Homo sapiens: one gene and its partners. The protein of the gene in region 4 purifies or fractionates together with the protein of the main gene of each other region. This does not show direct contact. Each region holds a gene or a part of one and is shown on either strand. Other genes may lie near its edges. The genes, in order: RAB27A, ACAA2, ACP3, PCP4, CREG1, NUDT3 and PM20D1.

What was found.
Region 1: the proteins of PCP4 (region 4) and RAB27A purify together in Homo sapiens (affinity purification with mass spectrometry; one large-scale study listed by BioGRID and IntAct). This does not show direct contact.
Region 2: the proteins of PCP4 (region 4) and ACAA2 purify together in Homo sapiens (affinity purification with mass spectrometry; one large-scale study listed by BioGRID and IntAct). This does not show direct contact.
Region 3: the proteins of PCP4 (region 4) and ACP3 purify together in Homo sapiens (affinity purification with mass spectrometry; one large-scale study listed by BioGRID and IntAct). This does not show direct contact.
Region 5: the proteins of PCP4 (region 4) and CREG1 purify together in Homo sapiens (affinity purification with mass spectrometry; one large-scale study listed by BioGRID and IntAct). This does not show direct contact.
Region 6: the proteins of PCP4 (region 4) and NUDT3 purify together in Homo sapiens (co-immunoprecipitation; one large-scale study listed by IntAct). This does not show direct contact.
Region 7: the proteins of PCP4 (region 4) and PM20D1 purify together in Homo sapiens (affinity purification with mass spectrometry; one large-scale study listed by BioGRID and IntAct). This does not show direct contact.

What each region holds. Positions count from the first base shown.
Region 1 is NC_000015.10:55,230,814-55,234,313, forward strand, and holds part of RAB27A (ras-related protein Rab-27A), read right to left. Parts: intron 1-3,500. UniProt on the Homo sapiens protein: Small GTPase which cycles between active GTP-bound and inactive GDP-bound states. In its active state, binds to a variety of effector proteins to regulate homeostasis of late endocytic pathway, including endosomal positioning, maturation and secretion.
Region 2 is NC_000018.10:49,786,034-49,789,533, forward strand, and holds part of ACAA2 (3-ketoacyl-CoA thiolase, mitochondrial), read right to left. Parts: intron 1,329-3,500; coding exon 1,258-1,328; intron 1-1,257. UniProt on the Homo sapiens protein: In the production of energy from fats, this is one of the enzymes that catalyzes the last step of the mitochondrial beta-oxidation pathway, an aerobic process breaking down fatty acids into acetyl-CoA.
Region 3 is NC_000003.12:132,327,407-132,330,906, reverse strand, and holds part of ACP3 (prostatic acid phosphatase isoform PAP precursor), read right to left. Parts: intron 2,641-3,500; coding exon 2,545-2,640; intron 1-2,544. UniProt on the Homo sapiens protein: A non-specific tyrosine phosphatase that dephosphorylates a diverse number of substrates under acidic conditions (pH 4-6) including alkyl, aryl, and acyl orthophosphate monoesters and phosphorylated proteins.
Region 4 is NC_000021.9:39,898,438-39,901,937, reverse strand, and holds part of PCP4 (calmodulin regulator protein PCP4), read right to left. Parts: intron 3,463-3,500; coding exon 3,411-3,462; intron 1-3,410. UniProt on the Homo sapiens protein: Functions as a modulator of calcium-binding by calmodulin. Thereby, regulates calmodulin activity and the different processes it controls.
Region 5 is NC_000001.11:167,550,963-167,554,902, forward strand, and holds the start of CREG1 (protein CREG1 precursor), read right to left. Parts: upstream 2,801-3,940; 5' UTR 2,780-2,800; coding exon 2,426-2,779; intron 1-2,425.
Region 6 is NC_000006.12:34,279,179-34,281,924, reverse strand, and holds the end of NUDT3 (diphosphoinositol polyphosphate phosphohydrolase 1), read left to right. Parts: 3' UTR 1-2,246; downstream 2,247-2,746. UniProt on the Homo sapiens protein: Cleaves a beta-phosphate from the diphosphate groups in PP-InsP5 (diphosphoinositol pentakisphosphate) and [PP]2-InsP4 (bisdiphosphoinositol tetrakisphosphate), suggesting that it may play a role in signal transduction.
Region 7 is NC_000001.11:205,847,333-205,851,309, forward strand, and holds the start of PM20D1 (N-fatty-acyl-amino acid synthase/hydrolase PM20D1 precursor), read right to left. Parts: upstream 2,801-3,977; 5' UTR 2,741-2,800; coding exon 2,572-2,740; intron 640-2,571; coding exon 553-639; intron 1-552. UniProt on the Homo sapiens protein: Secreted enzyme that regulates the endogenous N-fatty acyl amino acid (NAAs) tissue and circulating levels by functioning as a bidirectional NAA synthase/hydrolase.

The DNA of each region.
Region 1 (3,500 bases), on a different chromosome or scaffold from region 4:
CAATCTCATCTTTTTTGTTTGTTTAACCAGGGGGTACATGTGCAGGCTTGTTACGTAGATAGATTGCATAATGCTGGGGTTTGAGCATCTATTGAATTCATCACCCAAACAGTGAATGTAGTACCCAATAAGTAGTTTTTCAGCCCCTCTCCCACTCCCTTCCCCCTTTTGGAGTCCCTAGTGTCTACTGTTTCTGTCTTTATGTCCATGCGTACCCATTGTTTAGTTCCCACTTATAAGTGAGAATGCATGTGGCATTTGATTTTCTGTTTCTGCATTAATTCACTGAGGATAATGGTCCCCAGCTCTATCCATGTTGCTGCAAAAGACATAATTTCACTTTTTTATGGCTGCATAGTATTCTATGATGTATATGTACCACATTTTCTCTATCCAATCCACCACTGATAAGCACCTAGGGTTAGTTCCATGACTTTGCTATTGTGAATAGTGCTGCAATAAACATTTGAGTGCAGATGTATTTTTGGTAGAACAATTTTCCCTTGTCCCATCCCAAATTTTAAAAGTGCTCTTAAAAGAATTTTATAGACAACACTCCTAGAACAGCAGAGAACGGACCATCAAAAATTTCTTCCTCCACAATAGCAACAAAAACAGTGGTAAAAATTGTCCAAATCAACTTTTTCAGTACTCTAGGAATTAACAAAGACTTGCAACATTCCAAGGAGCATTTATTCAAGAAAAACAGCCGAATATCAGTAAAAACAGTAAGCTTTGAGGTGTTTTTTACCTTGCCCTATTCCCATCCCCCTCACTCAAGCTTTTAGAAGACTTAAAAACCATGTGCACAAATGTGGTTGTTGTGAAAACATCAGCCTAGCCACCACTGTGGACAGCAGAGGAACAACAGGTTTGGAGCTCCCTAAAAGTCCCATACTGAGAAAAATTGTCAGGAAGCCCCTTGGAAAGCTCCATGCCCCAGCTTTGTCTTTCTTTGACCTCACTCAAAGCTTGCTCTTTGAGAACAGCCCTATCCCAAGGGCATTTGTTGAAAACTATCAGCAGTAATTATTTAACATCACAGCTACCAGAGGTAGCAATACCAGTTAGGGCTAACAAAAGTCTAACAACAACAACAAAAAAAAAATTTAAAGAAAAAAATAGGAAATGAGATTTCTATAATGCTCCCAAATATTCCTTGGAACCTAAAAGGCCATGTTCATGGGCAGGGCTCTACAAATGCCCAGGAAAGATCTAAAAAGGTCCTAATCTCTCACTTCTGACTGACTTTGAGGTTCTTCTCAGGCAGAAAATAAAAGCTAAGGCAGAGTTGTAAACTGCCTGCAGTAGTATTAAACACATACCCCAACAAACACACAGAGACTCTCAGAAAAAGCTAAGAGACTTATTAGTTCAAGGAATTTAATAAACTCTCTCCACTCATTAGCTGTCCACTAAGTTGACTGAGCAGAGACTTCAGTAGCTGCATACAAAGAATACAGATTTTGCAGAATTATCCCAGAAACATAATTAAACAAACAGCAACGACAAAAATAAATAAATATGCAGTAAAAACAAGAAACCCAGGTAGGGGAAAGAATCTGAGTTTCTAGAATAGACACATTATTTTAAATGTCCAGTTTTCAGCAAAACGTATAAGACACACAAAGAAACAGGAAAGTATGGCTCATGCGCAGGAAAAAAACAACGAATAGAAATTATTCCTGAGGAGGCCCAGATGTTAAACTTATTAGACAAAGACTTTACATCAGGAATTATAAATATATTCAAAGAACTTAAAAATCAGTAACATAGCGGTCCTCTAAAATTAAAGGATAAATTAAGACAAAACTGAGAAAAGTCATCTCTAGCAGACCTATCCTACAAGAAATACTACAGACAACTCTCAAGACTAAGCTGAAAGGAAACTAGACAGTAACTTAAATCCACACAAAGAAATAATAAGCACCAGTAAAAATGTAACTGCATAGTAAATATAAAAAACAGTATAAACGTGGTTTTTCTTTGTAGCCCTTTTCCTCCACTAGATTAAAATTTAACTGCAGGCTGGGAGTGATAGCTCATGCCTGTAATCCCTCAGCACTTTGGGAGGCTAAGATGGGTGGATCACTTGAGGCCAGGAGTTCGAGACCAGCCTGGCCAACATGGCAAAACCCCATTACTACTAAAAATATAAACAATTAGCCGGGTGTGGTGGCGGGTGCCTGTAATCCTAGCTACTTGGGAGACTGAGGCAGGAGAATCACTTGAACCTGGGAGACAGAGGTTGCGGTGAGCTGAGATCTCACCACTGCACTCCAGTCTGAGCAACAGAGAGAGACCCTGTCTCAAAAAGAAAAAAGAAAAAAAAATTAACTGCATACAGCAATAATTGTAAAGCTGTATTGATGATGGCACACAATGTAGAAAGATGTCATTCGTATAGCAATAATGGCACAAAAATATGGGAGAAAACAGAGCCACATAAGAGCAAAGTTTTACACAGTATTAAAATTAAGTTGCTATTAATCAAAATTAGATTGTGAAAAATTAAGATAATTGTAATCCCCAAGGGAATTTTTAAAAAAGAACTCAAAAACATATAACAAAAAAGGGAATTAAAATGATGCACTAGAAAATAGAAAAAGAAACAACAGTATCTATCAACAGACAAATGGATAAACAAAATGGTGTATCAATACAATAGAATATTATGTAGCTATAATAAGTAATGAAGTCCTGATACATGCTACAACATGGAAGATCCTTGAAAACATCAGGCTGAATGTAAGAAGCCAGACACAAAAGGCCATATATTATTCCATTTATATGGTGTGTGCAGAAGCCATTGATAGAAAATTCATGGTGGCTAAGGGGAGGTAGAAAGAGGAATGCCTGCTAATAGGTATGAGGTTTCTTTTTAAAGTGATGAAACTATTCTAAAATTGAATGGCTGTGATGGCCACACAACTCCGAATATATTAAAAACCACCGAATTTTATACTTTAGATGGATGGATTTCCTTTTTTTGTGAATTATATCTCAACAAATCTATTTTTTAAGTTATACAATAAGTAACCAACAAAAATAATCACATACATATATGTAGATTCTATCAACTACACGTCAATACTAAAAATTTCATTAGGGCCCTACTGTTATTCAGTGGGTCTTAATCTCTATAAGCCTCTCTGGTAGTAGAATAAAATACTAGAATGGGCAAAAGGGAATGTTCTTCTGTCTTAAAAGCCAGGGACCTTTCCCCCTGACAGAATATGATCCATTAAAGGACCTTTGTCATTAATTTCCTGACAACTGGTTTACCTGCTTCAGGCCAACAATGGATTTTTCAACAAGAAATGTAGTCTAAGGAGAAAGCCATCTTTCCTCATCTGCAACTGTGACACCATGACCTTCTGCCTTCCCCTCCAACACTAGAATAACTTTCAGTCTCAAAGTCCTTAAAAAATAAATAAATAAAAGTTTCTCCCTTCAACATTCTGCAGAACATCACATTCACTACTGGCATTCCCCACTCC
Region 2 (3,500 bases), on a different chromosome or scaffold from region 4:
AGTACTGTATTATCATATGATCTTAATTCAGGAATTTTATAGATAAGGAAACTCATTCTAAGAAAGGTAACTTTTGCAGAGTTGGGATAAAATTCAGTCTTGTGCTCTTTCCTACTATACTTTGTGGTCTCTCAAGATGGTGCCTCATATGTGCTTAGATCCACCATTATCTTTCTACTCTATATACAGAGCCATCTTCAAGGAGGTACTAAGAGACCTAGAATAGGTAGTGAAACTAGGCTTTTGAACCTAGGAAAACTATGGTCTGAGTTATGTCCTTGAGAATGTATACATTTCCAAATGATTATGAACAACTTCCCAAAGTTGATATAGTTTAATAGTTTTAAATGTGAGGTCTAAAGTGAGAAATTTAGTGGTACCTATTTGCTGACACAAATATAATAAATTAAACAGCCTCTTTGAGGCTCTGAACTGTGATCTGCTAAAAGTGGAAGAGATTTAAAGATAAACCATTTGTCTGAAATCATGGTTTCCTGTGTGAGAGATTATCATAGAGGAAATCACACCTGTGCCTACCCCTTCGCTATCAAGTTAAATAGATTTCCTTTGTTCTATTAGTTATTTCCCAATGCCAGGCATCACATGCTTAATCACCTAAAATTTTCAAATAAATATTCCAAAAGTGTGGAATGTATATAACCATCTTTAAATGTTTCTCCACCTCTTCTTTTAATTATGCTTAAGACACTTTAGTTCTAATACTAACATTTAAAAAGAAATCACTCAATAAATTTAAGTTCCAGTGTCAAAAATTATGATAGGTGCATCCCAAATCAAGCTACAACTATCGTATAAAAGCCAAAGATACATTTAAGGGAGGGGGCTCTATCTGGCGAGAAGGGCAAGAAACTTGTAGATTTGGCACTAAATATTGCTTTTCTATTATGTCAATTATTTTACATATATTTTTTCACTTTAATATTCAACAGGCATGTTAATAGTCTAAAATGTAACAGTTTTATAAAGTAGTAAGAAATTCCCAGGAATTTATACTTGAGTAAGAGAAATCAGGCAGTTTGAATATTCAAATATAAATAAAGCATGTTAACCAGGTGGGGAAAAGTATCAACACAAGGCATCTAATGAAGGTACTATTTATTTAGATGTACATCATTTGGAAAGGCTAACTACAATGAAATTCAAAGAGCAATGAGACCAAATTAAAGTCATTTATGCTATAAAAGTACATGGTTTATTCATGTTGTTAAAAAAAAAAAAAAAAAAAAAAACACTTACCTCTACCAAATCCATGTCCTTAAGACTCAGTCCTGCTTTCTTCAGTGCCCCACTGATAGCAGGGACAGGACCTATATAATAATAAAAATCTTCTATAAAAATATAGAAATAAATGTCATCTTATATTTACGTATCAAGCTTCTCCTTCTTTCCAAGTAAGGAAGAAATAATGCGGCAGTTATTAGTAGCCACAAATCTTACTACCTTGACCGTACCTATTAAATGAAGTGACCATAAAGAGGCAGAAAAAGGGCCCAGGCATGGTGGCTCATGCCTGTAATCTCAGTACTTTGGGAGGCTGAAGTGGGAGGATCACTTTAGCCTCCTGGGCAACACAGCAAGACCCCATCTCTAAAAAAGAAAAAAAATAATAATAAAAATAAAATGGAACCAAGGTGAAAAGTTGTTTATACATTCAAACTGCAGATAAGAGAATTACATGAAAAGTTCTACCATAAACGGCTTTAAGATTGAAAACAGCCAAAGGAGTCCATATATGGGATTTTAGTTATGTTAATAGATTATAATTGATATCAAAGAGCAAGGCAGACTGAGTGCTCTACTTGGGATCCAAGCCATATGCATTCACAGCACAGAAGTTACTGTGGCTACACTCTGAATTTTCAGGCCCATTTGGATAAAAGACAAGAAATAGCAGTATCTCCACATGGGCACAGAGAGATGGGAAACTACGAGGCACTTCAGGGAAGGTTTTATGAAGTAAGGTGATGTTTACAACTCCAAGGGTAGGCAGGAAATTTAAATAAAACATAACTCCTAATTTAAGAAATGCAACTCCATCTAATAAGACTTCTGAAATAAACTTTAGCTCCCAGATTTCTGATGATGTAATGAGAGTTTAATATTGCTCATAATTTAAATCCATATTTTTTCTCAAAAGGTAAAAAATTTGGGTAGAGAAGATTATCTACTTCTCGACTTGTTCTTAAAGAATGAAACTGCCAAAAATGTCTACAAAGAAAAATATGTAGTATGTTCTGCTGAATTCAAGTAGTCAAATATTCTGCATCAAGTTTCACAAGCATTTTACCTTATAAAATGGAAAATCAGTCTTTACAAGAAAGGCATAATGAAACCTAAATATAATATTTATTTTGTCACGTAGTTAAAATACTCTTTGGACAACAAACCACGTGCTTATTGATTAGGACTATCCAGTTAATGCACTTCAATTTAAAATGCCAGTTTCATGTGGCTACTGATTTACTACAGCTACTGATTTACTACAGGATCTGATTCCAGATTCTCTTTGTATGTCTAAAGCATGAAATCATGAAAATGAGATGGGTAGTCAGTAGTAAAGCATCAGTTATCCAGCCTGGTGAGGGGATGAAGTAGCCAACAGTGGTGACAGACACATAAAAGGTGGACAATGTTCAGACCACTGTACACACTTCCTTGTCTGCATAAACAACACAGCAAGCATGACTCGTACTTTCACTTTAACTCAGAATCCACCGTAACAATATGCTAGGCCATAACTCGATTTTTAAAGGACTCTTCCCAGACCACTGTTATTTACTGGGACTTCAGGAAGGTTTAGTATTCTTGTTAGGAAAAGGAGACCTTATTTCTAGTCCTGGTTCCTGTCACTAATAGCTGTGCGACTTTGTGCATCTCTCTGGGCAACAAGCTACTCATCAATAGCACTCTGAATGGGTTTTCCACCTTTTTCTCTTTAAGCATCAGAATTCTTTTTGCATATGATGCCAAGTAATAGATAATGCCAGACTGCTCCAGCTGAAGAGGCTCAAAGTTCCACCCACCAACCTCTACCATTGCCACCCCTGAGGAGTTCCAGGGAGTGCTGTCTTTCTATAGCTGTGTATTTCCTCAGAACCAGTACTATTCTTTTCAAGTCATGGCTTTCCCCGTTTTTTTTTGGTCTGCAGCTATTCTGCAGGGCTAAGGATTGCTAGTCATTAGGTAATCATGGAACTGAGAACCACTATTCTTGTAAGTTAGATTAACAAACCAGTTCCCACTAGATACTTAATAACTTATTCTCCCCACTTATTCATCTGGGATGCTTCAACGAGTTACTTTGTTTAATCCCATCACTATATACAAGTGACAGCCAAACTTCTAGATGAAGGGGGCAGCTGATACTGTGGGACATCTGGAATGTACAGCTCTGTTCAAGCCCCGAGGAAAAATGACAATCCTACCACAGGAGCATTCTTTGTACTTTAGGGCAAATATTCAGGCCCAGGAACAGAAGG
Region 3 (3,500 bases), on a different chromosome or scaffold from region 4:
ATCAGAGATTCCAGCTCATTAGTTCCTGAGTGGGGCCCTGACATCTGCATTTTAACAAGTCTCCCAAGTGATTCAGATGCATGTAGTAGAGCACCATGCTTTGGAAATGCAGCATTCAAGTTTGTCTTTAATCCAGAGCCTTACTAGAGCTTTGGGAGCCAGAGAGGAGGTTGTTACGGTGGCTGCTGCTTGGTCCCACTTGTCATTTGCTTGTCACACTTGTCATTTGCTTGACCACCACTATAATCACTTCCCATCTACGATAGGGACAAGGTGGGAAAGGAATAATATACCGTGACCTGAGTAGCGGAGAAGCAGGTACTTTAGGTCTAATTGTGTTCTTACAGCTGACTTTTTAAATAGTCGTCTGTATGAAGCAGTGATTTTCACACTTTAGCATGCACAGAATCACCTGGAGGACTCAATAAAACACAGACTTCTGGGCTTTAATTCCAAAGTTTATGGTTCACTGGGTATTGCGTGAAGAATTTACATTACTGAGAAGTTCCCACGTGATGGTGATGCTGCTGGTCCAGGGACCACACTTTAAAAACCACTGATCTAGACAGCCATCATCTTATGATTATGCAGATTAAAAATACCTAGACAAGGCAGATTAAAAGTACCTAGACACTGATCTAGACAGCCATCATCTTATGATTATGTAGATTTAAAGTACCTAGACAAGGCTGGGTGTGGTGGCTCAGGCCTGAAATTCTAGCACTTTGGGAGGCCAAGGCGGGTGGATTGCCTGAGCTCAGGAGTTTGAGACCAGCCTTGGCAACATGGCGAAACCCCATCTCTACTAAAAATATAAAAAATTAGCCAGGCGTGGTGGTGCTCTCCTGTAGTTCCAGCTACTTGGGAGGCTGAGGCACGAGAATTGCTTGAATCTGGGAGGCAGAGGCTGCAGTGAGCTGAGATCGAGCCACTGCACTCCAGCCTGCGGGGACAGAGTGAGACTCCATCTCAAAAAAAAAAAAAAAAAAAAAAGTACCTAGACAAGGGTAGGAATCTGAGCCCTAGAACCTTGTCACTTCAAATGTGGTCCATGTACCAGTGCCATTGTCATCCTTGGGAGTATGTTAGACATGCAGAATCGCAGGTCCCACATCAGACCTGCTGAATTAGAATCTACATTTTGACAAGATTCCCAAGTGATTCATTTGCACATGGAAGCTTGAGAAATACTGCCCTAATAGAATCTGATGGGTAATCAAGGTTCTTCAGAAGAAGAACTCAGATCCTGCAGCCTAGAAGAATCTTTTGGTCTTAATGGGAAAACATAGCAACAGAACAGGAGTCTATACAGAGCCATAGGTATTAACAAGCAAATCTGAATTTTTGTAGCCTCTCTTTCATTCAAAGGGACAGAAGATGGGTAGGCTATGGTGAGAAGAGCTTTGACCTGGGAGACAGAAGATGCTGGTCTCAAATAGCCTGCCTGAGTTTTCTCCTCTATGAAATATAGTCAGGGCAGAAATTCTCAGCCTCGGCTACACATTAGAGTGAACTGATCACCAAGGAGCTTCTAAAAATCCCAATGCCCAGGACACATACTAGACCAATTAAATAAGAACCTCCCAGGCAGACATCAATATATTTTTTAAACCTCTCCAGATAATCCCAATGTTTTGGCAGGATTAAGACCCATTAGTTTTTGAGACATTCTACTCTAAAGATTCTGTGACATTTTCTTAATTAATATATTTAAACAGATCAGGACAGAAGCAATTCACCTGGCCTTGTGGCTCCAAACAGAAGAGTCATCCAATCTTACAAGCAAAGGGAATAGGGCTTTGGAACAGTGACTAAAGATGGCTTTGCTCCCCAGTTCACCTTCTCCTTAGATGCTCTTCAGAAAGTAGGGCTCCCTGTGTTTAACTGACCACTTATAAGGAAGGTCAAATCCCAATATATCCAGCTGACAAGAAATCATATTCTGATATCAGCACTTTGGGGAATCATGTTTCCCAATGCTGTTGATTCAGCTTATTGATTACAAGACTATTTTTCACTTTCTCATGTGAAGCCTAAGAAATTCAAATCCTGGCTTATGATTACCACTTGGCTCTCTTCAGCATTTCTAAGCTCATATAGTCTTTGTTCATGTACATCTCTTACATTTAAATAAAGCCAGAAGGGCAAAAAATATCAAAACAGACAATTCTATATACATTTCCCCTTGAGACTCATCAAGAATCTTTTTTTTTTTTTTTTTTTTTTTGAGATAGAGTTTTACTCTTGTTGCCCAGGCTGGAGTGCAATGGTGCGATCTTGGCTCACTGCAACCTCCACTTCCCAGGTTCAAGCGATTCTCCTACCTCAGACTCCCGAGTAGCTGGGATTACAGGTGCCCACCACCAATCCTGGCTAATTTTTGTATTTTTAGTAGAGAGAGGGTTTCACCACGTTGGCCAGGCTGGTCTCGAACTCCTGACCTCAGTTGATCCGCCTGCCTCGGCCTCCCAAAGTGCTGGGATTACAGGCGTGAGCCACCACACCCAGCTTCATCAACAATCTTTAGCTAAAAGTCCAACCAACCTGGGTGAGTTGGCCAAATCCTTGTGGCCATGAGGATTCCTTTATGGGGTCAGTGGGAAAGGTGTCAATGGGACTTCGGTCTCCATGCCGAAACACCTGAAAGTAGATGTGAGAGAGTGATGTTACAAACGTCACTTGGGTGTTTTGCTTCTGCTCATTATAATAGTTTTTTTTTTTCTAACTCATTGGTTTTAACTTTGGCTTCCCATTGTAATCACGTAAGGAGTTTTAAAAGATTCTGAGGACTGGCTTTCAACCTTAGTGATTTTTATTTAATTAGTCTGGGATGTGGCCAGGACATCAGGATTTAAAAAATCTCCCTGGGTAAATCTCTAGTTAAGAACCACTATTCTAAGTTCACTAACACTTTCACTGTGTTTCAGGTAATGTAAGAATCAAGATGATCAGCCATTAGAAGGCAGGTGACACATAATGGAGATCGGTTTGTACATAAGATAGGACAGAAAGGAACACAAAGCTGACAAGAGTACTTTACTGCAGACAAACTCTGATGAGAAGTATTCTTCCCTTAATGATTACAGTAATAGTGGTATAACTTTTTTTTTTTTGAAACAGTGTCTTGCTCTGTTGCCCAGGCTGGAGTGCAGTGGCGAATCCCAGGTTCAAGCAATTCTCCTGCCTCAGCCGCCTGAGTAGCTGGGACTACAGGCGCTTGCCACCACGCCCAGCTAATTTTTTTATTTTTAGTAGAGATGGAGTTTCACCATGTTGGCCAGGCTGGTCTTGAACTCCTGACCTCAGGTGGTCCACTTGCCTCGGCCTTCCAAAGTGCTGGGATTACAGGTGTGAGCCACCGTGCCCAACTAGTATAACTTTTTTTTTTTTTTCGAGACTGAGTCTTGCTCTGTCATCTAGGCTGGAGTGCAATGGCACCATCTTGGCTCGCTGTAGCCTCTGCCTCCCAGGTTCAAGTGATTCTCATGCCTCAGCCTCCC
Region 4 (3,500 bases):
ATTACTTCTAGAAGTTTTTACCCTCATCTTTCTTGGGCTGTTCCAGTTTTTGTCTTTGCTCCTTTTTAAAGGCAAAAGCACAGACTTTAAATTATAATAAAGTATCACGTACAAATATCATATATAGGCAGTTTTAGCTGAAATTAAAGTATAGCATGTTAATAATAATTTACATTTATACATTGCCATTATCCAGTAACTGTAAAATAATCTCAAATTCACTTTTCTACCCAAAAGTGACTATCATTTAATATCTAGAATTATCTAATGAAAAGCCTTATTCATAGCATCAGGAATATTTCCATTTAATTAATTTTTATACCTCCATAAAAAACCTCACTCAGTTTCCACTGGTGTGGACTGGTTTTCAGCTAAAAGAAATTCCATGTCTTTGAATGGCAGAAAATGGCATCACTTATAGTAGCCGGTAATTCCCTTTGGTGCAAAGCACTGAGCATGTCAGCATGGTTTGAAAGACCAATAGGATGTCAAGATAAAGCCAAGGGGCAGAGACATCGAACACATAGGACCTAGTCCTGGCTTCGTCACCATGTGCCTGGTCTTCAGGCTCCTCAAGGCATGACATGAGACATGCTGAGCAGTAGTTCCCAAAGTGTGAACCAGGTACCCTGGGGGGTGCCTACATCCTTTAAGGGAGCCCAAAAGATCAAAAACATTTTTGGTCTTATAAAAGATATTATTATTATAAAAGGTAAGAGTTTGATCTTAAAGGATATTATTTGCTCTTTTAAATCTCATACTCTCACAAGTGAGCAGTGGAATTTTCCATAGGCTACACATCACATGATATAACAGATTGAACACAGAAGCCAGTATGAAAATCCAGCTGTCCTCTGTCAAACCAGACTTTAAAGAGAGTTGCAGAAATGTAAAATTGCCACTTTTTACTAAATATCCTTTTCCATTTTGGAAAATATAATGACTTTTCATTTTTTAAAATGTTACTTACATTCACATGTAGTGGGTTTATTATTTTATTTTTAATAAATTAATAAGAAAAACCATTTAAAACTTTCTCCATTTTAATTTCTAATATAGGAGACAGTGTATGGCAGATACACCTGATATCAATAGCGTAACTTAAGCATACCCTGAGAATGACCCTATGGTCTAAGAAGAATGTGTGCTTGGAGTCGAGTTCCGAGCTAAGGAATCTGGGAGTGGCCAGTATAGAGATTCATTCTTATCTATGAGGAACATCTGAATTCCCAGCCCATCCCATGGGATGCAGGCCATACAGGGGATTGGGGACATTTGTTTTGGAATGAATGTAGATTGCCAAGTAGAAGTTGCTAGAGGGAGGGTGCTAAGTGAAAACGCTGTGTAAACTGCATGCTTGTTACAGGCAGCTGTGGTTCTTTTATCCAGCCCACCGCCACTGGACTGCCCTATAGGTAACTCCCCTCAATAAATCCTATGTCTTGTTCACTGGCTCCAGGTCTTTTCTTCAGTACCATCTCTATAAGAGTCAGTAGGGTTCCAGCATGACAAACATCAATAGATATCACCAACATAAACAAAAGTTCTTTGGGGTCCTCAAGAATTCTTTAAAATGGAAAGGAGTTGTGAGAACAAAAATGTTGGCTGGGTGCAGTGGCTCACACCTGTAATCCCACCACTTTGGGGGGCCGAGGCGGGTGGATCAGCTGAGTTCAGGAGTTCGAGACCAGCCTGGCCAACATGGTGAAATCCTGTCTCTACTAAAAATACAAAAATTAGCCAGGCGTGGTGGTGGGTGCCTGTAATCCCAGCTACTCAAGAGGCTGAGGCAGGAGAATCACTTGAACCCTGGAGGCAGACGTTGCAGTGAGCCGAGATTGTCCCATTGCACTCCAGCCTGGGCAACAAGAGTGAAACTCTGTCTCAAAAAAAAGTTGAGAATCACGACAATAGAGGATCTCTGAGAAGTCTTCTGACTGTAAAACTCTAATTCTAAGGTTGTGAGGTTCAGTGGAAAGGAACTTGCATGAACAGATGGCTACGAATGTATGAACTGGGAAAATCAGTGGAGGCTCACAGCGCCCTATGCTCCCCTATGGCAGGCAGTGGGTCCTTCCTCATATAGGCAACTACAATATTGCTCCTCCCTTTTAAGCCCCATCCTTTGCTCCTTCCTCTGCTTCCTGCCTTCCTTGCCAGTACCCCACACACCCACCCCAACTCACACACAGGAGACAGGAAAAGCCCTGGGCAGCAAAGGAAGAGCCATTGGCCTCATGGAAAACCTTGTTTCCTTCTTCTCCCAGCCCCCTAGCTCCAATTAGGACATTGTGGAGCCCCCACCTCTCTACTTATTGATATGATGACCCCTTTACCCAGGGAACACTGCACTCACCCTGCCCAATAGGACTGCCCTAAATGGGTGGGCATATTGGCAGGCTGCAGACGCAGAGCAACATTCTCATACTTGAGTCTTGCTCAGCTCAGACCCACCACAGAGGCTCCAAAGGGGTTGTGAGGCCCCAGGGAATTTTAACCGATGGTATTTGAGATTGGCATTATCCACAATCTGATTGATGGACACTAGCATCAATTTCATCTAGTTGGAAGCAAGAGTCATTTTCCATAAAAGGAGAGTTCATCTTGAGTTAACAGAAAGGAAGAACACCCAGAGTCTCACCTCACCGGAACTATGCTGTGGCCCTTGGTGCATACCACTGGGTATTTTTTATTATTATGCTTGTTCTTATGTCAATTGCTAAAGTTAGAGACCTGGGGTTCCAACTGGCTCTATTTCCTTCAGGATCCATGCACTTCCCATTTCTAGCTAAATCTCACCCCAATGCCAAGCCTCCATTTCCTGATCCATAAAAATATGATGATCATTCCTACAATTTAGGGTCATGGTTGAGATGGGCCCATGAAGAGGCAGGATGCAATGTTCCTGTCACTGCTATCATTTTTATTTGCTGGTGAATCGCTGCAGTGACATTCACTGACTCAGCACCTTCCAGTGGACCAGCACCGCATTGTGTGTGCTCCGGAGGGCTGAAGCAAGTTTTAAAACATCATTTCAGAAGTTGTGTACTTCACAGTTTTCAAATCACTTATCTCGTTTGATCTCATTTTATCCTCACAACAACTTGGATGATTCTCACCCACCCTAATGAAGAAAGCAGAGAACTAGATTTGCATTGTAATTACCATGTTGCCCAAAATGGGAGTCCTCCTATGGAAGGGAAACTTCTTATCACGGCATTTAGCTAGCTCAGTTTTCTTCATAAAACCAGACCTCAGTGCTCACTGTGAATTGCTAAAATCCTCTGTAAGCTGAAGCGCAGACACATATAGTAAGCTGTTTGGGATGGGATGTATGATCCGCACCTGCTGCATACCCAGGGCTGCAGATGGCAAAAGAGAAAGAACTTGGACTATTCATGTCCTCTTACCATTTTCACCAGATGTCTTGTCTTTTCCATTGGTTGCCCCAGCACCTTGTCGCTAAAGGCAAAAAATAAAAGAAAAAAGCAATTGTTATC
Region 5 (3,940 bases), on a different chromosome or scaffold from region 4:
AGAAAAGAATGCCAAAATGGAAGGGAGGCTAATAGTAAGAGGTCTTGGTGCAAATAATCAAACCCCAAGATTTCCCTTCAGACTCACTGGCTCTGCAGCCAAACACGGTCCCACTATAAGCTAACATCAGCAACACTGTCCTACAGACATTTACTATACAAAAATGCCACAAAGAAAGAGACATACAAAAGAAACAGCCCAGTGGTAAGTACGTTTGAAGCTCACAACATATCTCTAAGTTACAGAGGACAGGTATTTTACACATGAGAAATGGTCCCAAACCTAGGTCTTTTTGTTCCTTCTGAACGATTTCACCCCCTGTCAATGAGAAGAAATGCAGAGCACCCTGGAGGTCAGGAGGAGGAAAAGAAAAAAGCAGAAACTTTGACCTGCTAATTGATGGAATCAAGTCAGACAAATTCTAATGTGGCCACTTCTTTTCACTGCCATCATGGAAACCTAAAGCCCTGGGTAGGTTCCTTGCCACTGCCCTGTCTATTTCTAGAAACATGAAAGACCTGGGCTAATGTCCTACCTGACAGCCATTAGCTGACTGGTCACAGGGTAAGTCCCTGCACCTCTGAGTCTGTGTTTCCTCACTTCCTAAATGGGGACAATAATACCAGCAACTCCCTAGTCACCTCACAAATTTAAATATGATTATGTATTGGTCAATCTCCCTCCTCCCCCATTAGAATCATCAGGGAGTGGTTTGTGGGGAGGCGGGAAGGGGTGTTGTCTTAAAATAAAATGTGCTTTCAATAAAATACCTTGGCATCCCATTTTTAAAGCCTTCTTAGGTGACTATGATTTGCAGTCAAAGTTGAGCACCACTGATGGAGTGGAGTGAGTTTGTTTTGAGCAAACGCCTAAAGGTGTGGAATGGGCTGGGAATAAGAAAATGGTGAACTGGGGTGTATCTGCCTTAGCTAAAAGAGGGCACTGCTTCTGTTTTTGCTCAAAGAGTGCAGGCCCACAGTGTCACTGGATCTTCCCATTTTTCAAGAAAAGTTAGAGATTTACATTTTAAAGTAAAATCTAAATTTTAAAATGTTGGTAACAAATTCAAATTTATTAAAAACAAAACAGAACTTTGTGTAGGCCAAACCGGTCTGTGGGACATATTCAGCTGATGGGCCACCAGCCTGTGATAGGTGGTTTGAAGAAAGATGAACCTGAGATGAAACTAGGGGTTTGCCCGCTGGCTTTAAACAAGTTACTTAACCTAGGTAGGCCTCAAGTTCTTCATCTGCAGAATGGGGTATATAATACCTACTTCAAAGAATTAATAGAAGAGACAACGAATGGAAGGCAAATGGAAAAGTGATTAATCAAGCATCAGTTTCTTGCATCCTGTCTTTATCAACAATGTTGTACTTTCAGAGTTGAACTCAAATGTGAGAGCTTTGTCAAAAAGACCCTCCATCAAATCAGGCTCCATTCCTGGACTCTGTGTGTCTCCGGCCTCCCAAGCTGGGTGTCTGTGACCCCATCCCTGAGACAGCAGAGATCCATCAGAGTTGTAAGTGTGGCCCTGCACCAGAAGGTGGGCAAAGGGCGAGGAAGAGATACACCTTCAATCAGCTCTGCATCTTACTGAGGAGCCACTATGCCTGTGGAGGCCTAAAGACTGCAGTAATCATTGTAATCGTCCATGATATTGTACGTTAGCGTCTTGCTGCAGGAGGGAAAAGCTTAATTCAGGAAGGGTAAGAGAGTGAGAAACCCTGAAGTCACATATTAAAGTGCTTAAGTACCTAACAATCTCTATGCCCTGTAAAACCTTTAAGAATAGGAGCCCAGGCAGGGCGCGGTGGTTCACGCCTGTAATCCCAGCACTTTGGGAGGCTGAGATGGGTGGATCACGTGAGGTCAGGAGTTTGAGACCAGCCTGGCCAACATGGTGAAACCCCGCCTCTACTAAAAATACAAAAATTAGCCGGGTGTGGTGGCACGCACCTGTAATCCCAGCTACTCGGTAGGCTGAGGCACGAGAATCGCTTGAACCTGGGAGGCAGAGGTTGCAGTAAGCTGAGATAGCGCCACTGCACTCCAGCCTGGGCCACAAAGTGAGATTCTGTCTCAAAGGGAAAAAAAAAAAAAAAGAGAATAGGAGCACAGTTAATAGAGACACTGGGCCCCAAGACGACTGAGAACCACTCACGGATGAGAAGTCCTCGGGCTGCTGGCAGAGAATTTACCCCAGGTGCGTGGCCCAGTGGCGGAGGCTTGTGGGAAATTCCTGGTACCCAGCTGCCCAACATCTGGGACGCTGCAACGCCCACCTACCTGCCTGCGCGGCAGAGAAGCAACAGCCGTTCGAGCCACGCTCCACTTCCCGGGAAGAATTCTGGGGAGAGTGAAGGCTCGCTCTGTGGCCGCCCCGCCCACAGCCCGCCTGGGGAAGCCGCGGGCCCCAGCTCACCTGCAGGTTGCTCACGGAGAGCTGCAGCGGGCTCAGGTAGAAATAGGGCACGCCGCTGCCCGCGCCCGGGGGCCCGTCGCTGAGCGAGAGGACGTCGGCGAAGGGCCGGCCGCGCACCGCCTCCAGCGTGGAGATGGTGGCCAGAGCGCCCCAGTCGGAGACGTGCGTCACGAAGCGGGCCACGCGCGCCGCGTCCTCGCGGGGTGGTAGCGGCGGCAGCCGGGAGGCCTCGTCCCAGTCCCCGTGGTCCCGGCCGCCGCGACCCCGCGCGGGCGACACGAGCAGCGCCAACAGCGTCGACGCCAGCAGGGCGGCGAGCAGTGCGCGCGCGGACCCGCGGGATAGCCCGGCCATGGCGGTGTCTCCAGGAAGAGTCCCGGGCCCCAAGACCTGCAGGGACCCAGCCGGAGCTCGGCGCGCCCAGGCCCCGCCCCCTCCGCGAGGCGCCAATCAGAGCTAAGCACAATGCAGGGGGCGGGGTCCCTCTGCAGCTCCGCAACCTGCAGGAGAAGGGATTGGTTCATCTGCATTCCAATCGCTCTGCCTGCCCTCTTTAAGGATTGTGAATTTGTCCTAAACGGGATATTTGTTTTGTTTTGTTTGACAGGCGGAAAAAGAAAGGCTTGAAGAAATCAAGCAACTTGCCCAAATCGTACTGCTAGGAAAAGACCAGCCTCTTTACACAGGCACACACCCCCTCCTTTTAATACCTTTGGAGATGAATATCTGGCATCTGAGAGGAAATGCTGCATTTTCTACCCATGCGCCTCTTTTCTGTTGAATTTACCATCAGCTCCAAAGAACAGCGAGGGTCCCAGCGTTGTAGAAGCCCAGACTCAGGCTCGTGTACCCCATGTGTAGCTGATGCCAAACACTGACATATAGGTGCTTGGAGATAAAAGTTTATTCGATTTGGCCAAAGCGAGAAGGCGGGAGGGCAAGATCTCTCAAATCCGCCCTAACAAAAAGAAGAAGCAGAGAGTGTTTATGCGGCCAGCGAGTCAGGGAGGGGGAGTTTCAGGGAATCGAGGGAAAAAGTCTGTGTTTCTTCAGTCTCAGATAATTCCTTGAACAATCAGACTTCTGGGCGACAGAAGCTGGCCTCAAAGTACTTCAAAGGACTTATTCCTCCTGCAAACTTTTTCGTAACCCTGAAGTTATTATCTCCTCCTGCTTGATAAAGAAACAGTACATCAGCAGTTTATGATTATGTTGTAGGAACAAGGGATATTGGGCAAAAAGAGAGTTGTCAACATGTGCAAGCAAGGGCCTGATCAGAATTTTCATTATTTCAGTCACTAACAAATGCTGGGGTGCTGAAATCTCAAGGGGCCCACTTACACTAGTAGTAAAGTTAGGCAGAAGCCCGAAAGTTCAAGACCTTTAAAAAACTTTTTATTTACTTATTTTAAAATTTTTAATTTTTGTGGGTACATAGTAGGTGTATACATTTATGGGGTACATGAGATATTTTGCTACAGGCATACAATGCATAATAGTCATATCAGGGTAAAT
Region 6 (2,746 bases), on a different chromosome or scaffold from region 4:
CAAGAGGCTTGTGTCCTCCCAAGAACATGAGGGAGTTCAGAAGGGAGCTATAGCTCACAGACAGAAACCTGCCCGCTCACCCCATCCCTCGTGACTGGGAGCATGTTTGCTCAGAATTTTCTAAGAGGACTCTCCCTTCAAAAATCCAATTTGCTCCCAGAATGTTGTTTAGCCTCTGAGAATCTCACTCTTTCATTTCCATCTGTGAATGGACATAGATGTGTTGCTCAGGGATCAGAAACATCAGAGTCCAGGGCCCAGTGGCATGGTGTTGCATTAGTAGTTAGAAAAGTAATTGGTCAGCTCTACTGTAAAAGAAATAAGTATGTAGTACAGTTTTGTAAATGTCAGGTCTGTTCTATTGTTTTGTGATCTGAAGACTGTCAAACTGGTTGATAATCAAAGAAAAGGTTGGTGGTTAGAATAAGTAAAATTTCAGTTAGAAAGATATAGCTTACCAGTTTTCCATGTGCTTAAGGAAGTCAAGAATATTTCAGGTTGTTGAGAACTGTTGTAAAATGGAATTGAAGCTAGTGTCTCTCACCTTCTTAGGTGTATCAGAGAGAGGAAGTGGAAGGCCAGTAGTAGCATCTTCATACTTACTTTTGCCAGCCCAGCCTCCATTTCAAAGACTTTGTCTTCCATCCTATCCAATGACATGGTCAGGGATGGGCTCTGAGGAGGCAGTGAGGCCCCACCTTGGTTTGCTCCACTGTGGTGTGTAGTCTCCAAACAGCTTAAGGGTTTTTAAGTTTTCTCACGATTACCTCCACTCCACTCATCTACTATCAGCATCAGAAAGGTTAACATCCCTGGGACCATTCTACTTATAAAAGAGATGAACTAGTGTGCTTTCTCCCCTTTTCCAGGTGTGCCATCCATATACAATCTCCTCTTGGCCAAGTTCAACAAATGTTTCCAGGGAACCCCGTGGGTTGAGGCAAAGTAGCCAAGATGTATTGAGTTAAGTTTTTCTAGAGGACAAAAGTATTTCTTGTCCCTTTTCCCTCATGCTCATATGTTTTAGCTGAGGCGTAAATGGCCAAGTTGAGTAATATCTGTGGAACTGAGACAGAGAGCCAGGGACCCATGTACCCAGGGACCAGTCCCCTGGGGAATCACACAGTGGCTCAGACTAGACTGCTCTATCCCACCAGAACTCTGCTGCTGTTCATTTCCATCAGGACCACCCAGGAAAGCAAATAAGTTAGCCTTCTCATCATTAGGTCACCTAATCTCTTGGGTTGCAGGATGAGAGCATATATAGATCTCCTGTTTAGAGAGTGTGTTCATAATTGTAGAAAGGGATAGAAAATGGAATAACCAAGAGGCTGTGTCATTTTTTAAGAGGATGGCAAGGATGACCTCAAATGAGCTCAACAAAACTGGGAATCCAAGGAATGGTGCTTGTAGGGAAAGAGAGGTCAGTTGTGGTCCTTAAACCTCTTGGCACCTTGTGCGGGTTATAAAACAAGGAGCTGGAGTAAAATTGCCCTTACCCCCAATCCAAATGCTGTCCAGGATTTAGGAGCTACCCAACCTGTGGTTATATGGTGTTGGTTTCCATTTTTTGTTTGTTTGCTTGTTTCCAAAATAGCCTTGCTTGGTACTGCATGGAAAGTTCAAGCTTTTCTTCTTGCCCGCTCAGGGCTGGCCTCTTCCCCGTGTCTTCACAGCGTCCCTAAGGAAGATTTTTGCAGCACTCTCTGGAGCTGAGGGGAGTGAAATTTGGTCCAGAGAAGGCGGAAGGAAATAGTTTTCCTGTTTCCTTTTCTCGAGGTGGATGTCCTCAGGCTTCCTTCACACCTCCTTCTCATGGGTGCGGCTGGCAGTACAGTCAGGCTGTGGAGGAGGGCTGAGAAGAAAGGGGCACTGGTCCAGCCCCAGGTTTGGTCTGAGACAGGTACACAGCAGATACCATCCCACCTTCCTCTCTAAAGAACAGGCCAGCCACACATATAACCCTTTCCCTACTTTACTAATGTATCCCTTATGTGGTACCAGCAATGGAGGACAGGCAGACTTACCCCCTGCCATCTAGAGAGAATGTTGTTATTACCCGTAAAACTTGACCACCCCCATATCCCACTCCTTTTTGTAAAAACAAATGCTTAAACCTGTGAGCCTGCCGTTCCTTTCTATGTGTTAATCAGTTTCCTTCCATTTGAGCTGTGTGGGAGGGAAGGGCATTGAAATTGTAGGTTGTAATCTTGTGCCAACCAATAAAAACCAGTATTTCACACACATCCCTTTTAGTGTCTGGTCTCTTCTTTCCAGAGGCTTCCCTTGAGTCCTTCATGTCAGCCTTTTGGTTTCCCCCACTCCTCTGCTAGATTCTTGGGAATTGCCCTAGAGGTCAAGGGTGACCCCATGGAAGATTTGGTGTGCAGGGCATTCAGGTGAGAAACGCAGTGGAGAAAGCCAGAGGCTATTAAAATCAGCATGTTGTTGTATCTTGCCGTCCTTGCTACCAGGTGCCGAGACAGAGCCCTGGTTAGACGGTCAGTGCCCACTGCTGAGGAGAGGGCCTGTACCCCTTAGCCAGGGAGGCTTTCTAGGGGACCCAAAGGAGTTGGAAGGGGTAAGAGGTGAGCCACATCCAGAATAAGGAAGCATCACAAGAAGTTGCTTTCTTCTGTGTGGGGTGGAATCAGGAAGGGCGGAGCCATTTTTGAAGCTGTGAGTGGTAGGGCTTGCAGGCCGAGAATGGGTGGGCATCATCAGTGGGAGAGCAGCATTAAGTGAG
Region 7 (3,977 bases), on a different chromosome or scaffold from region 4:
AGGGAGGAGTTCCAAGAATCCTTTTTTCCTCTGACCCATCCTTCCTCAGCTCTGTACTCAATGGGTGGTAGGGATGAGGGAAAAAGACTGATGTTATAGCTCAAAGTTGTTGACTGCCTAGAGGCCTAGAAATGTGTTAGTAATGAATCTGGGGTAGGCCTGAGTACGTGGAGTGTATATGTACCGGTGTGTTTGGGTGTGTAAGGAGGTAGGGGTGGGAGGAGCATGGAACATAGTTCTGGGCAGTTGCACAAGTAGAAGGAAATCCTAGTTCTACTTTTTGATGATTTAACATTTATTGAATGACACACATGTAGGGCAAAATTTGAGAGAGTTTGTACTCTAATGCAATGGCTGGATGAACTCTCAATCTTTGCCCTACATATGGTGGCTTAGTTTTTCCAAGAGCAAATCTACAGTCTCTACTCTGCCTATGGGAATTAGATTGTCCTCTGATCAGTCGCAAAATAAACTTCTTTATCACTTTGTAAAAGAACTGTGTCTCCATTGCTATTTCTACCACCCACCCCTTGCCCCTGATTTGCAGCTGACCTTTATGAATGTATTTTCCGAACTCAGCCAGGGCTGTAGTATTGGACTTCTCAGAGCTAAAAGTCACTGTTGGAATCTGGATGGCACCTGTCAGAGTCAAATAGAGATGAAAGATTGAAAATGAATTAGTCATTGTTTTTTTCTACAGTCCTCTGTGCACAAAAAGTTCTTTTGCCTTCATTATCATATTGCAGAGGGCAAAACACTAATGTGAGGTAGGCGCTATTGTTTCCTCTAATTCGAAGATGAGGGAAAATGCTTGGAGAGGTTAGGTGAGCTGTCTGAGCAACAGGCAGACTATAGATTTAAACCTATGTCTTCTGGGTTTGTTTAGGCTGATATGGTTCTTAAAGGCAAATACAGTCTAAGATTGGAGGGAAGTGGATTTTTGGATCCTGGTCTTGAAGGGAAGCTACTATAAATTGCTTCCTAAGGCCTCACTACCTCTGAAATCACCAATTGCTTTGATGAATCCAAGCTTCATCATTCTCAAGGCACCCACTGTCCTGGGTCCCTACATCAATGAGGCTTGTGTGTTTTTGTATGTAAAGGCTTATTCCTTATGCAGAGTCTCACTAGTCTGTCAACCAAGACCAGCTTTTTGGGCATATAATGCCTGGGAAGGGGTGGATTTAGAAGCCTCCAAACAAACTCCTCAGTCCTAAAATAATCTCACCCTCCTTACTCAGTTGTCTCAGTTCCTGAACCTTCACTGGGCTCATCCCTTTGAGTCTTTAAGACTTTACAGTTTTAAAGAGTTCCATGATCAAAGACAAAACCACTGGGAGGGAAAGCATGAATCATGAGAATATTGAATTAGACTGCTCTCCAAGAACACAGTGCAAACAAATTCACCTGAGGCAGGAAGGGTCTCTGAAAGACAAACTTCATCAGTTTTGCTAAGGATCAACCCTACAATAGCATAGCCCACCAGATAGATGGGGAAGCCGAGGTTCAGAAAGATTCAAGTGCCTACTCAAGGGCAGACCCAAGGATCTGATCTCAGGTGTTCTGTCCCCTGCTCAGAGTTCCAAGCTGTGTTGCTATGAGGTCCCTATTCTAGCTTATGTAGCTTTTGTTCTCTTCTGTGCAGACTGTGAGTGGCTGTCTAATGCCTTTTAGAGAATTATTTATGCTTTGGGAAAGCCCTGCTCTGCCTCCCAGGCTTGTCACTCTAGCATATGAACAATCTATATCCAACTATTGGGGTTAGCTTTTGGTCCCTGCATCTGCTTCTATATGTTTATGCAGGCAGTCTCTCTTAATCCATTACTTAATGAAAGGGAAAAGACTGGAGCTAAGCTGAATGGTAAAGAAGGATTTCATCCCATAGGATCTAGCACTCAACAGAAACTTTCCTGTTTCCTGGAAAATGCAGATTCAGAACAGGGATGAATTTTTGGTCTGGATTAGAGATCTAGAGGAGACATGTTCTTCAATTATGATTGAGAATTAGGAACATCCCACACCCCGGGAACACTCCACTCCCTTTCTTTAGAGCCATCTGATCCCAGCGAGTCCGACAGGCACTAGATGCTGTCACCCACTGCCCACTCTTTGCTGTGGGGCCCTGGGGAAGATCATTTAGCTGACCTAAGCCTCAATTTCTCTCCTTTGTAGATAAGACTAATATCATTTGTCTTATTTTACGACACCGCAGTAATTTATCAGGCATGCAAACTTTCAAAGGTTAAAATTGATGTACAAATGAAAGCTGGTGTAATACTCGAGGCAAGCAGGGGAAAGAATGGACGGTGGTCACGCCAAGAGGGGTGAAGTTGGAGCTTCCAGGTTAGGCAGGGCACACCAGAGTTCCAGGAGCCAGGTATGGGGGAAGTGTGGCGTCCCCAGACAGGGGCACGATGTGCTGGGAAGGGTGTTGGGGCCGGGCTGGGGTGCGTGTCGGGGCTCCAGCTGCAGTAGCAGATGCTTTGCGGCGGAAGCGGGGAGTCACGGGTTGACCTGGGGAGGGAGGGACCCACATATGAGCATAGGTGGGTGAAGGGGACCCGGGTTCACCTTTCAGCGCCTCTTTCATCGCGACGCGTTCCTCTTTGCTGAACTGAGAAGGGATTCGCGACGCCCTTTGATGCTCCCCGCTCCTCGGGCCCATCGATCTGGAGACGGTAGGGAAAACTAGGAGCAGCATAGCCACCAGGGCCAGCACGCAAACGCACCGCTGAGCCATGCTTCTCTCGAGCTCCTGCTGTCAGGCTACCGGGGTAGTTCTGACCTAAACGCCCAGACTAGCGTTTCTTGGCCCTAGCTCTGCTCTTATTCCGGCAAACAGCCTTAGCCACACCCCATATCCAGATCTGACCAATCATCGCTTCGCTAGGACAGCGGAACAACCAATTGACAGAATGACCCCGCCCAGGATCCTTAAGGCCTTTCGAGGGTTGTGGGTTTTCGTGCTGAGGCCAGCAGTTCCTGCAGAGCAGAGGTGAGGTCGGGCTCCAGGCTAGAGTCATGTCTGGTCCGCACTTGATCTCTCACCCATAAATCCTTTCCTGTATGACAACAAATCAAATAAAGGAGGAAAAGCAAAATAAAATGCACGAAGCTTATCAGACCATACTCTGCTGCTCGTTTTTTCCGAAGCTTAGAACCTGACTACAATTCCCTAGATCCTGGGGCGGGGGAGCTCTCTAGGTTCCCAGCTTGATTTCATCTGAAATTGGAACAAATTGCTCTGTTTATAGATACTGCTTTGAAATACCAGCTCAGAGGGTTGGCTCCTGTTTAGAAATTTCATTGAAAGTGCTTTTAATATTAATGTTAACACTACATTTTTGCAACTCTAGACAAGTACAGTAAGACTGAAGGATTTTTAGAAAGATTACTATAAAATATTTAAGAGAATTTTGATGTATAAATAATTTTGATGTATTCCACAAGTGAAATTTTATGGTTATTCAGAGTAGAGGATCATTCTGGAAAAAAGAAAACCTGTCTTATGTCACAGAAATATAAAATCAGATTTCCTGAAGCCAGAATAAATCGTTCCTTTCAGATTTCTTGATGCAATTTTATCTGGCATCACTCTCAAATTTTAGAATTCTCAAGAAAAATTCAGTAAGTGCTATACAACCAGTAAGGCCATATTGCTACCTGTGACCAAAGCTACAGGTTCACAGTCCTGGTGTTTGCATTTCATTTAAGATTTGCTTAAAAAAAAAAATTCAGCCATGTAGTTACTTTTCTTTTCTTTTCTTTTTTTTTCTCTCTCGGTGCCCAGGCTGGAGTGCAATGGGGCGATCTCGGCTCACCGCAACCTCCGCCTCCCAGTTTCAAGCAATTCTCTGGCCTCAGCCTCCCAAGTAGCTGGGATTACAGGCATGCACCACCATGCCTGGCTAATTTTGTATTTTTAGTAGAGATGGGGTTTCTCCATGTTGGTCAGGCTGGTCTCGAACTCCCGACCT